Homo sapiens: one gene and its partners. The protein of the gene in region 1 purifies or fractionates together with the protein of each later gene. This does not show direct contact. Each region holds a gene or a part of one and is shown in the gene's direction. Other genes may lie near its edges.

Region 1 (3,500 bases):
TCTCCTCTATTATTGAGAATGTTTTGGGTCATGATCCTATGAGTATTGGAGTAAAAGAGCCCGCGGTTGCCTGTTAATTTCTTAAATCAGTAGAAGCACATAGGATTGGAATTTGGACTTTAGGTGTGCAGTTATAAAGCACTTGATTTTTATCCTTATATTTTTCTAAAGTTTTCCTCTTTCCGAGGGAGGACTAAGAGGACTTGAAAGTCCTTCCTCATGGCTCGCCTTCCCTAAGTTGCAGGTTCTGGAGTTCTGAATATAAAACTTAAAGTCATTTTAACAATGTAGGAGTTGCCCTACTTAAACATACTCTGCTGGGTTACTAGTACTTTCTCTCGAAGTGCTCACATCCAAGTCATATTAAGGGCGTCAGCGACTATGAAAAGATTTGATAAAACCCATTGTATTTAACTGACAAAAGTTTCAGCCCCTCCTTGGTCTGTTTCCTTAGTCTGCACGTGTTCCTTCTGCTTTGAACTTTCCCCTTTCTGTCCCTTCACTTCAATCCGTCCTTTGGGAAGCACTCCCTGGCCACTGTGTGCCTCATGGTTAGGAGCACAGGCTTTCCACTGGGACAGGTTTAGTTTGTTGCTGACTATGGAATCCAGAGCTTAATTCTCTGCACATTAATTTTCTTACTTGCAAAATGGGAGTAGTTAAGGATTGCACTGTGGTAATGTGGTAACCACAGTGATAACATAGATAACCTGTGAAAAGTACCTAGCAGTGCTCAGCACTAGGAAATGCTTAATAAATGGTAGCTACAAGTATCTCTGGGCAAATGTTATGACTGTTATTGAATTATATGCACTATGGCATATGTACCTTTATTAGATGTCTACTGTGTCCCAGACACTGCTCTGGTTCAGGGAGTATTGCAGTACAGGGCAAACAAAATTCCTGTTTGCCTGGAACCTGCATTCTAGGCCGGGCGTGGTGGCTCACGCCTGTAGTCCCAGCACTTTGGGAGGCCAAGGAGGGTGGATCACCTGAGGTCAGGAGTTCGAGACCAGCCTGGCCAACATGGCGAAACCCCGTCTCTACTAAAAATACAAAAATTAGCTGGGCATGGTGGCGGGCGCCTGTAATCCCAGCTACTGGGGAGTCTGAGGCGGGAGAATCGCTTGAACCCGGGAGGTGGAGGTTGCAGTGAGCCAAGCTTGCACCACTGTACTCCAGCCTGGGCGACAGAGTGAGACTCCATCTCACACAAAAAAAAAAAAAGGAACCTGCATTCTAAAAGCATGCTATGGTAATAATGGCTCACTTGTGTTATAATTTTTATCTTTTGTCATTTACTTTCCCCACTAGACTTTAAACTCTTTGGAGGCAGGGACAGCTGCCCTAACGCTGCCCTGTATAGAAGGTCCTCTGTCATTCTTTGGCAATGGAATGAGTAAGTGAACAAAAGATCCATGCGCTATAGATAGGGGAGTCTTTTGAAGTAGTTCAAAGATGGGGAAAGCTCCTGATACCATGTTTCTTTAACGTTGTGATGGTGGTCAGAGGAGAGAGGAACAGCTGCACTTCTGGGCATTGGAAGGGCAGAGCAAGATTTACGGGAGAATTTGGTTCTTGCCTGATTGATGGCAGCATTTTTCTTTTTACCTTCAAGAGAGTCTAGCAGTTGCTGGAGTGAGAAGCATACCGAAAGGCATAGAGTATTTTTCTTGGAAGTGACATTTGCTTGATGTTGGGTGGAGCAAAGCCCTGAGCTAAAATTTGGCACCCACGAGACCCACTAAGATAAAGCAAATGGAAGAAGTAATGGTACCTTGATTTGGTGGGGAGGACTTTTTTTTCCAGTCTGCACAGTGGGTTCACAGCGGCCCCATCCTCAGAGGGCTGTCATGAGGTTGGAGGGAGCCTGGTCCACTGAAGTCCTCAACAAATGGTTGAGGTGGTTCGTTGTCACTGAACACCCATTCAAGTCTTCCAAAAATAATGTTGGCCTCCTAAGTAGAAAAGGATTCTTAGAAACGATTTCAACAGCTACTGCCCAGTGATGGTCCAAGTGGGGCTTGTCCTCTTGTTTAAAATGAGTGATGTTCAAAGTGTCTGGGAGTAGGTGAGGAACTGTGGGTGTGCGGGAAGGAGAAGGCTGGTTGGGTCGGGTTGAATTGTGTGGATTTAGAGGCTATGAGTTGGGGAGTGAAGACAAAGTTTTGTCTCTGGAGCCTTGTTTTCTATTCCTTGACTGCTTTGCATACATTGCAAAGCAGGCTTGGTTTCTGGTGCACAGCTTTGCAGGTATCATTGCTGCTGTGCAGCTCTTGGAATTCAGCTGCAGAGGCCTAGGCATTAGCCAGTGGTGGGGAGCCTGGGAACTGGAGGCTGAGGCTGCAGCAGCCTCTAGGAGCACTGGTGCTGCAGACATTTTTGTCTGGGCCAAAGCTGCCAAAGTCAGTGAGGATCTTTTCCTTGAAGGTATCTCTGAGACATTGCCCTGCCTTGTAGTAGGCCTTCTAAGAGCCGTGACCCAATCAATAGGACATTAGAGGAAAATCAGAACCAATTCCAAATTTGGCTTTGGACTGCTTTGTTCCTTCCCTTCTATTTCCCTTACTGTGAGTTAGACCTGCCAGACCAACACAGGCCCTGCCATGGGCTTCCTGTTAGCCCAGCAGGGCTGGGCGGACCCAAACTCGTCCCCCAAAGAGCGCTGTGCACATTGAATGGGTCTCAGAGCAAAGTTTTTCATTAGAGTTTTATGGAAGCCCAGGCCTTACTGCCTGTTCTGCTGTATATATGTGAGAGATAACAGAGTGTACTAACCCACCGATTACTGGGTTAGCAAATCTGGAGAGAATATTCTTTGCTCTTATCTTCTAAGATCCTCACTGTGTGGGTCTGCTGGGTTTCACCTTCTGCTGAGCTGCTGTCAGCAGTCAGCCTGAAGCTGTCTAGATTTCCTGCAGAATTCTGTTATCCCAGACCTGCAAGTCATCGTGAGGAAGCCATGCTCTTAAATAGCAATTAATCATTTTCCTTCCCAGTTTGTCTCCATCAAAGTAATTTATCAATGATTTTTTTTTTTTAATGATGGGCAATAAGGACCATTTTTTTTTTCTCTAGAGAAAGTGGATCAGTAGCCATACAAATATACTGGTAATTTATGGTCATTCCTTTTAGAGGGGATTAGTAAGTATCCCTTTTATTAATAATCAAAAGCAGTTTATTTCAAATGCTATTTGATAAAGACAGCAAATAATAAAATTATGCTACATCTGTGTGGATGTAGTTGTAGGTCAGGCAGGAGGTTGGGGGGAGAGTCAGAGAGTCAGGCCTCTTCCCTCGGGCGTGGGGCATCCAATTGAGCTGGCACCTGGAACTCCACCGCCTTTGGGAAGCTTGTGGCTGTCTAGCAATTTCAAACTCTTCTTTCTGTCCAGGAAGCAGATGTTTTGCTTTCATTTTCCAACTTTAGAGCTTATTTTTAGAATAAATGTTTATTTTCCCACAGAATTCAATTTACTTTTTTTAACCTTCATTTTGGT
Region 2 (3,500 bases), on another chromosome or scaffold:
ATAATGAACTGGAGTGGGGACCAGAATTCTGGTCATTGAATCCAGAGGGCCAAGCCTGCCAGTCTTCACTGTGATGCTTTTCTAGGCTTAGTAGTTAAGTCTTCATATTCTGGGGAAACTATAACTTGTGGAGATAAACTACCTTTTGTGTTTTGGGCCTGATACTTGGATTTGGACCTTTCTATGGAGCAATTCTGTGAAAATGCAGGTCTCAAAGTCCCAGGCTGTGGGAGTTTGGGGAGACAAGGAGTGTAACTGCTGTCAATGAAACAGCAAGGTCAGTGCTGGCAAATAGGATATGTCAAAAAAAAAATGCCTTTAAGTTATTGGACTTTATGTGTTCCAACATATTTCCTAGTGGCATGTGCCAGTGAATTTTCAGTTGTGAGGATTCTATATGTGCCACTTTGAGCTTGTGACTTCCTGTTTTTCCTCACGTATCCCCAGCTCTGAGGTGTACACTGCAGTAGGTCTGGGTACCTGTTGATAAACAACTAGTATGGACTGTTGGTCCAGCCAAGTCTTACCAAAGTATCCTGAATTAACTTGAGGTTAGAAGTCTCAGACTTGGCCGGGGGCAGTGGCTCACGCCTGTAATCCCAGCACTTTGGGAGGCCGAGGCAGGTGGATCACGAGGTCAAGAGATTGAGACCATCCTGGCCAACATGGTGAAACCCCATCGCTACTAAAAATACAAAAATTAGCTGGGCATGGTGGCACGTGCCTGTAGTCCCAGCTACTTGAGAGACCGAGGCAGGAGAATTGCTTGAACCTGGGAGGTGGAGGTTGCAGTGAGCCGAGATCGCGCAACTGCACTCCATCCAGCCTGGCGACAGAGCGAGACTCCGCCTCAAAAAAAAAAAAAAAAAAAAGTCTCAGTCTTGTATATGTTATGGGCCAGTTGCTTTAAAAAAAAAAAAAAGCACCAGAATTTTGTCATCAAATGAAATGTTTTCTGGAAGCATAAACAAGAACTACTCTGATTGAATAGTAAAAGGTGGGAGTGCTATGGGGCAGGGAGCTGATAGCCAGTAAGGGGTCCTTTTAGAAGGCTAGAATCCCAGTGTCATCTGGTTTTAGGAAAACAATACTAAGTGCCTTACTATTTTTTTTCTTTCTTTTGTTGTTTAGCATGTCCCAGGTTTTAAGTATTATAAGTCAATAGCACTTGTTAAAAGGTATTAACAACAGTGTAACTATGAGGGTAGAAATATTTAATTTTTGATGGGGGATCACTAATTGAACTCCTTTAGAATGATTGAAAAATTCAGTTTTCTCTTTTTAAAAAAATTCTTGATTATTAGCAACTACAAGAAATGGACGAACGAAGGACTATTAAACTCAGTGAGTGTTACAGAGGATTTGCTGACTCAGAACGCAAAGTTATTCCCATCATTTCAAAATGTTTGGAAGGAATGATTCTTGCAGCAAAATCAGTTGATGAAAGAAGAGTAAGTGCTAAATAATTATCTTTGAATGCATCTGTTTGGTTTAGGTGTGCAGTTTAAGTTAGTGAAATGAGTTGAGAAAGGGATAAAGTAATCTGATGTGTGGTTCTAAATTATATTCTGTAGAAGAATGTCTTGCAATAGATTCCTTTGAGTTCTGAGATTCATTCTACATGCAAAAGTTCTAATTCTTTCTTAAAAAAAAAAAAAAGATTTCTAACTCTCTTCTCCCACTAAGTTTTCAGTTCTTATCAAAGAGTCTAACCTAGGAACTGTGTGTTACAAATTGTGTTATACTATTATATTAGTTTAGTGAAAATTTAGAGAAGTATGTGGTTAGAGTTGCCTTTAGCACTTGAGCTGGATCAAGAAATGTGGGTAGCATATGGAGTGATGACCAATGAGGAGGAGGAAGGAGGGCATTATGTGCAGATGAAACAGCATAGCCCTCCTCCCCTTGAGGATAGGTAATCACATTGTATCTTGATTAAGGACTAGGGTCTTTTATCTCAGTAAATGTTGATTGAGTGATCAAAAAGCATGGTTGGCAGAAACTGAGGAAAGGCAGTGGCAAGAGAAGAGAACTGGTGTTTGCAGGATATCAGATATGTGTCACATATTTTAGTCTTCATGAACCTATCAAGTAGATATTATATTAGTGAGGATCCTTTCTGTTACAGCTAATAGAATTCTCACTTAAATTTAGAAAAGAGGATTTTTGGCTTTCAGCATGGCTGGATACAAGTTTATACAATATCATTACAGCCCTCTTCTCTCTAATTACCCTTTAGCAAATTATTGCTGAGGGTAGCATTACTGACAAAAGTAAGCTATGACTTAAGGATGACTTTTGACTAAATGAAGGGCAAAATGTACTGTTAACAGAAATAGGCAACAAAAGAGAGGTTGTTGTTAGGGGTGGGGAGGAATTTGTAGAGATACTCTGAAAATAATGAGTTTAAGGTATCACTAAAGCATTCAGGTAGAGGTATGTATGTCTAAAAACAATATTTATGTGAGTTTAAAAATTTTAAATACATGGTATTAAACTTTCAAATGTTGTTTGCACTCAGTAGTGTTTATGAGATCTTTTCCCTGTTGCTCTGTTAACATTCCACAGTATATATTTAATTTATTTATCTTTTCCCATGTTGGATGAGTTAGAAAGCCTTTCCTACTCATCTTTTACTCTCTTTTACAATTAGATGTTCTTTCCTCATTCCAAAGATTAGCTTCTTTGTTGACATCTATCTTTTAAAGCAAAAAGCCTTTTTCCTTTGAAACTTCTCAGAATTTCTACTTGTTAATAACCTCTTTCTGTATTCTTTTTGTCAGTTAGGTCTTTTTCAGCTAAGTAGTCTTCAGATGAATTTCAGGTGGTTAAAGCTACCAAGTAAAAACATTTTATGAATATTATAAATTAATTAAGTTGTAATTTGCAAGTATATTTTTCTTTTGGGATTAAAATACTTTGAGTTTGTTACACATTCATGGGAATAAATTATTTACCTTAATGATTATTGTGGAATTATTTATTTAAACTTATATTTGTTGTTTTTTTGTACTGAAAAAGTTATGAAAGCTGATGTAGAATTATGAGCAAGTGAAACAGTTTTAAAACCTAGTTTCTTTTGTATAGGACTCTCAAATGGTGGTAGACTCCTTCAAATCTGGTTTTGAACCTCCAGGAGACTTTCCATTTGAAGATTACAGTCAACATATATATAGAACCATTTCTGATGGGACTATCAGTGCATCCAAACAGGAGAGTGGGAAGATGGATGCCAAAACCACAGTAGGAAAGGCCAAGGGCAAATTGTGGCTCTTTGGAAAGAAGCCAAAGGTAAAAGTCATAAAATTCCTATATGCTAATCAGTTTAAGTGTACCAACTAAAACAATGTGGGTATTGAATGCAAAATGATTTACCATTAATGGAGAATAAATATTTTCAATTTGAATGATTCAGTTAACCTTTCACTTATATTAGGAATACCTTAACAGTAACAGTTATTTATGGATTTAACATTTGACTACCGCTTAATAATGGGTAA
Region 3 (2,417 bases), on another chromosome or scaffold:
AGCCGGCTAATTTTTTGTAATTTTAGTAGAGACGGGGTTTCACCGTGTTAGCCAGGATGGTCTCGATGTCCTGACCTTGTGATCTGCCCACCTCGGCCTCCCAAAGTGCTGGGATTACAGGCGTGAGCCACCGTGCCTGGCCTCGGCCTGGTAACTCTTAAGTTTTGCACCTTGATGGTGACTTTAAGCCTTCAGGCAGAACTCCCAGGTGCTAATCCGTCAGTCCGGCAGCCGAAGCCTGAGCTCACCACCTTCAGACACCACCAGCCTCCTTCAGATGCCCAAGGATGCCTGACAAATGTCATTTTCTACACATCTTATGATGTGAGAAGGATTGAGAAGTACTGACCAGAGACACAGCTACATCCCTCCCTTCCACAAGCTGCAATCAGTGGATAATAAAGAAGAGTTTAATAAGCATATCCTGACCTTCCTAAAGTGTAATGTTGCATAAACATAAAGATTCTGGCTGCCTCTGGTGCTTAGAATCTATGTCGTGTAGGCCGGGCACAATGATTATTATACTCAGTTGTATCCTTGGCTGCCTAAAGTGATGCCAGGCCCTTGGCTCTGTCCAGAGTTCCTCTTGAGGAAAATGACCACGCTCAGCTGCTGCCTTTGTTCTGTTTGGTTTTCAGACGAAAACAGCAACCAGAGTTCCGTGTCTGACGTCTATCAGCTTAAGGTGGACAGCAGCACCAACTCAAGCCCCAGCCCCCAGCAGAGTGAGTCCCTGAGCCCAGCACACACCTCCGACTTCCGCACGGATGACTCCCAGCCCCCAACGCTGGGCCAGGAGATCCTGGAGGGTGAGTCGTGGTTGGCCGAGGATGAGTTTCCTAGAAGGGCCTTGCTTTCTGCTCTTGTTGTGTCTCGTCTTTAGAGTAACAGGCTCGAGAGAGCACCTCAGAGCCAGGCAGCACCAAGCCCTTTCTCGATAGCTTAGGAATGATTATAGTTTCCCCTTTCACAGAGGGAAGGGAGAAAACAAGCATTAGAGTTGCGTGCCAGGCTGTGTGGAAGGAACTTGAGTATTTGACGCCTGCTATAATTCTCTCAAAAATCCTGTGAGGTGGCAGCTATTGTCTTCTTTTACAGATGAGGAAAATGGACATTCAAAGCTTAGAAAGGTTAAATTGGGCTGGGCATGGTGGCTCACACCTGTAATCCCAGCACTTTGGGAGGTCGAGGTGAGCGGGTCACTTGAGGCCAGGAGTTCAAGACCAGCCTGACCAACATGGCAAAACCGTCTCTACTAAAAACATAAAAAATTTAGTTGGGCGTGGTGGCATGTGCCTGTAATCCCAGCTACTCCGGAGGCTGAGGCAGAAGAATCACTTGAACCCAAGAAGCAGAGGTTACAGTGAGCTGAGATCACACCAGTGTATTCTTGCCTGGGCAACAGAGTGAGACTCCATCTCAAAAAAAAAAGACCTGGCGCGGTGGCTCACACCTGTAATCCCAGCACTTTGGGAGGCCGAAGTGGGTGGATCACCTGAGGTCAAGAGTTAGAGACCAGCCTGACCAACATGGTGAAACCCCATCTCTACTAAAAATACAAAAATTAGCCAGGCATGGTGGCGCAAGCCTGTAATCCCAGCTACTCGGGAGGCTGAGGCAGGAGAATCACTTAAACCCAGGAGGCAGAGGTTGCAGTGAGCCAAGATCGCACCAGGGCACTCCAGCCTGGCGACAGAGCTAGACTTCATCTCAAAAAAAAACAGAGAAAGGTTAAATCGCTTGTCTGAGATCACATAGCCAGTCTAGTAACTGTTGGAATGAATGTCACTTTAAGTCCTTCTATTTTCAGCATTTATGCTGTCTGCATTACATGCTAAATTTTTTTCTTTTCTTTTTTTTTTTTTTTTTTTTTTTAAAGAGATAGGGTCTTGCTCTGTTGCCCAGGCTAGAATGCAGTGGCTGAATCCTAGCTCACTGCAGTCTTGAACTCCTGGGGTCAAGTGATCCTCTTGCCTCAGACTCCGTAGTAGTAGGACTGTAAGCCTTTGCCACCATGCCTGGCTTTCTTTTAATTTTCTGTAGAAATGGAGTCTCACTATGTTGCCCAGGCTGGTCTTGAACTCCTGGGCTTCAAGTGATCCTCCCACCTCAGCCTCCAGAGTAGCTGGGATTATAGGTGTGAGCCACCATGCCCGACCCAGGTTTCTTGTTATAATATGGATATATAGATGTGTCTTAGGCCCTTGTTACCTTCTCCTGTGCTGTGACCTGTTAACAGCCAACTACAAAATGGAACTTGTTTCTCCATGGGAAATGCCAATTGTAGTTAATATTTATTGTGTTCTTACTATTTGGCATGTGCTGTTCTTAGCTCCTGTGTTTTATTACTTCATCTCGTCCTCATAGCAACTCTCAGAAAACTGGGAGATTGAGTTAGAGTTGTGATGTTTGGGCTA
Region 4 (3,500 bases), on another chromosome or scaffold:
GCTTGAGAATCCACGTTGTCCCTGAGTTGGAGTGTGGCCAGAGGAATGACCGGGGACCCTGTGTCCAACAGTGCCGGGGCCCCCATGCGTGGTTGCAGGTGACCTCTCCATCCGACGCCCTCCTCCTTCCTGGGCTGGCGCTGCTCCCGTGGAGAGCTGACTTCCCTTCCCCAACAGGAGACCCTCCAGGTCAGCCCAGGGACCACCGCCCGCCTGCCCGGGGCCTGGGGCTCCAGGAGGGACCATTTGTGCCCTGATGGTGGCCATGAGCCGGGGACCCTGGGGCCAGGCACCAGCCAGGACAGGCTGCCCACTCTCAGCACATCCCACACAGCACAGGTGCACCCCGGGACCTGCTCAGGCAGCAGCTCTGTGCTGTCTACCTCCAGCACCCACCGTGTTTAATAAGCAGGTTCATCAGTGGAGCCATGCAGGCTGTGGGATGACTAGAGCTTGGTCAGGGGTGCACGGAGCTCTGAAATGTCAGAACTACACCGTGCAGATGGGACAGAGCTGCTGCTGGCCCCGCACCAGGCGCCTCTCAACTGTTCACTTTAAGATGTTGAAATGTACAGGATGTGAATTTCACCTCAAATTAAAACATTAAAAAAAGAAAATGGTACACAGTGCCCGCCCTAGGTGTTGAGGAATTCCCAGTTCACAATCTCCTGAGCAGTGCGTGGCATCTACAGAGAGGCCCGTCTTTTCCTTTTCATTAAGACAGGGTCTCTGTTGCCTAGGCTGGAGCTCAGTGGCACAATCATAGCTCGCTGCAGCCTCGAACTCCCAGGCTCAGGTGATCCTGCCTCAGCCCCACCCCGAGTAGCTGGGACCCCAGGCATGCACCACTACACCCAACTAATTTTTTTTATTTTTTATTTATTTCCTTTTGAGACATAGTCTTGCTCTGTCACCCAGGCTGGAGTGCAGTGGTGCAATCTCGGCTCACTGCAACATCCACCTCCCAAATTCAAACGATTCTCCTGCCTCAGCCTCCTGAATAGTTGGGATTAGAGGCTCACACCACCTTGCCCAGCTAATTTTTTTACCAAGTTGGCCAGGCTGGTCTCAAACTCCTGGACTTAAGCGATCCACCCGCCTTGGCCTCCCAGAGTGCTGGGATTACAGATGTAAACCACCATGCCTGGCCTAATTTTTTTATTATTTGTAGAGATGAGGTCTCGCTATGTTGCTCAAGCTGGTCTTCAACTCCCAGGCTAAAGTGATCCTCCCACCTCAGCCTCCCAAAGCACTGGGTATAGGTATGAGCCACTGGGCCAAGCCTAATGTTTTTCTTATCCTAACAAATTTATCTCCAAAACCCCACAATGAGAGAAACACTGGGAGCAGCGTGCAGGACCTAACAAGCCAGAGCCTGCCACAAAACCCCGGGCACCCAGCTGAAGATTCTAACTCAGCACCTGGCGCTTAGGAAACGGGTCTGAGCCCTGGGAGCCCGCACCCTGCCTTCTGGGTGTGCCCTGCAGTCCTGCGGAACCCTGTGGTTTAGACCGAGTTGCTGAGGAGCTTCCCGGATTCCCCGATCTCCGCTCCAGTCCTCTGAGCTGGTCTGCAGCCTGCCTCTTCCACCTCACCCCTGGGCCTTTGCACTGCTGCTCGCCTGCCTGGAAGGCTCTTTCAGCAGCGGTGGCCCTGGCTCCTCCAGCACTGCTCCTTCAGGTCTCTGCCCCCAGGGTTGTCTCCCAGCCCCACTCCAGCCCTGCCCCCAGGCAACCTCCTGTCTGGTAGGCAGCCTGTGTCGCTGATGCCTCCCTCCGCAAGGACGTCCCGCAGTGTAAGGCAAGGGTTCTAGATGCACCTCTGGTGTGAGAGCGGTGCCTTCCACACAGCGGGCACTCGGGATTTGCCCAACAGATTCCACCTTCCCCCAAACCCCTGCAAAAATCCCCAGCAGGGCCGCAGGGCTCGCAGCCCTCTGAGCGAAAGGGCCTGGCCTGTGTGGCATGTGCTCAGAGATGCGGGATCTGCACCCCAGACCCTGCTGGAGATCTGCTCCATGTGGGGAAGTAGAGCTTAGTGTCCCTGAGGGCTGCGGACAGGGGTGCATCAGCCTTGTGGCCGAAGTCTCTGGCCTTCACGCCTCTCAAAAGCAAGCAGATGCCACACCTCTAGTGTGTGGAGAGCCCTGGCTACACCAGGTCCAGCGCCAGAGCGGCTGGCCGCCCTGCCCTGGCGGGACACAACCGGAGCCAGACCCGGGATTCAGGGTACCCGGCACGGATGCTTTTACCTGGCAGGTGGCCTTAGACCTGGTTGTCTGACCCCCGACCAGGGACCCCTCACACGAGAGACCTGTTTACACAGTGGCTGCCCCGTAGCTCGTGTCTGACCTGTGTCCAGGGTATGCCTGTCCGACCATCGCTCTGGCACTGGGATCCCAGCCTGGGGCAGCTCCTGGTTCTTCTGACAGAAGGCGCAAATTCAGCACAGCGATAGGAAACAAGTTTGAAGATTTATTACGGATCCTAGGCAGGGAGGGCACTGTGAGCTGGGAAGGCAGCCCTCCCTCCCCGGGTCACACAAGGAAGGAAGGAAGAGTCCCACAGAGAGTGAGAGCTTGGCAGCTAGTGAGAGAGAGAGGGAGATGGGTGGATGATGGATGGATGGCTGGATGGGTGGACGGATGATGGATGGATGAGTAGATGGATGGATGATGGATAGATAATGGATAGATAGATGATGGATGGATGAGTGGATAGATGGATGGATGGATGGATGAGTAGATGGATGAATGGATAGATGATTGAGGGATGGATGGAAGGATGGATGGATGGAGATGATGGATAGATGATGGATGGATGAGTAGATGGATGGATGGATGATGGGTGGATGGATAGATGGACAGATGAGTGGATGGATGGATGGATGATGGGTGGATGGATGGATGGATGATGGGTAGATGGATAGACAGTAATAGATAGAGCAATAGATAGATATAGCTATCTGTAAGGCTGGGTGCGGTGGCTCATGCCTGTAATCCCAGCACTTTGGGAGGCCAAGGCGGACAGATCACTTGAGGATGGGAGTTCAAGACCAGGCTAACCAACATGGAGAAACCCCGTCTCTACTAAAAATACAAAATTATCTGGGCGTGCTGGCACTTGCCTGTAATCTCAGCTACTTGGGAGGCTGAGGGAGGAGAATCGCTTGAACCCGGGAGGTGGAGGTTGCAGTGAACCGAGATCGCACCATTGCACTCCAGCCTGGGCAACAAGAGCGAAACTCCATCTCAAAAAAAAAAAAAAAGATACAGCCATCTGTAGAATTGATATATACGGACATAGATTATATAGATAAATACAGTTATTGATGGAGATATACTTAGACAGACATACGGTCACTTTCAGCTATGGGTCACTTTCATTTCTTGGGCAAATGCCTAGGTGGTCTTTTGAAAGGCCCTGGGGGACCAGGCGCAGTGGTTCACGCCTGTAATCCCAGCACTTTGGAGGCCGAGGCGGGCAGATCACCTGAGGTTG

Evidence for each region. The genes of interacting proteins can lie anywhere in the genome.
Region 2: the proteins of ARHGAP44 (region 1) and FNBP1L purify together in Homo sapiens (affinity purification with mass spectrometry; 2 studies listed by BioGRID and IntAct, with this or other methods). This does not show direct contact.
Region 3: the proteins of ARHGAP44 (region 1) and BCL7B purify together in Homo sapiens (affinity purification with mass spectrometry; one large-scale study listed by BioGRID and IntAct). This does not show direct contact.
Region 4: the proteins of ARHGAP44 (region 1) and LMNB2 purify together in Homo sapiens (affinity purification with mass spectrometry, with the first as the bait; one large-scale study listed by BioGRID). This does not show direct contact.

What each region holds. Positions count from the first base shown.
Region 1 is NC_000017.11:12,792,498-12,795,997, forward strand, and holds part of ARHGAP44 (rho GTPase-activating protein 44), read left to right. Parts: intron 1-3,500. UniProt on the Homo sapiens protein: GTPase-activating protein (GAP) that stimulates the GTPase activity of Rho-type GTPases. Thereby, controls Rho-type GTPases cycling between their active GTP-bound and inactive GDP-bound states. Acts as a GAP at least for CDC42 and RAC1.
Region 2 is NC_000001.11:93,531,618-93,535,117, forward strand, and holds part of FNBP1L (formin-binding protein 1-like), read left to right. Parts: intron 1-1,304; coding exon 1,305-1,451; intron 1,452-3,087; coding exon 3,088-3,291; intron 3,292-3,500. UniProt on the Homo sapiens protein: Required to coordinate membrane tubulation with reorganization of the actin cytoskeleton during endocytosis. May bind to lipids such as phosphatidylinositol 4,5-bisphosphate and phosphatidylserine and promote membrane invagination and the formation of tubules.
Region 3 is NC_000007.14:73,538,274-73,540,690, reverse strand, and holds part of BCL7B (B-cell CLL/lymphoma 7 protein family member B), read left to right. Parts: intron 1-638; coding exon 639-809; intron 810-2,417. UniProt on the Homo sapiens protein: Positive regulator of apoptosis. Plays a role in the Wnt signaling pathway, negatively regulating the expression of Wnt signaling components CTNNB1 and HMGA1.
Region 4 is NC_000019.10:2,439,960-2,443,459, reverse strand, and holds part of LMNB2 (lamin-B2), read left to right. Parts: intron 1-3,500. UniProt on the Homo sapiens protein: Lamins are intermediate filament proteins that assemble into a filamentous meshwork, and which constitute the major components of the nuclear lamina, a fibrous layer on the nucleoplasmic side of the inner nuclear membrane.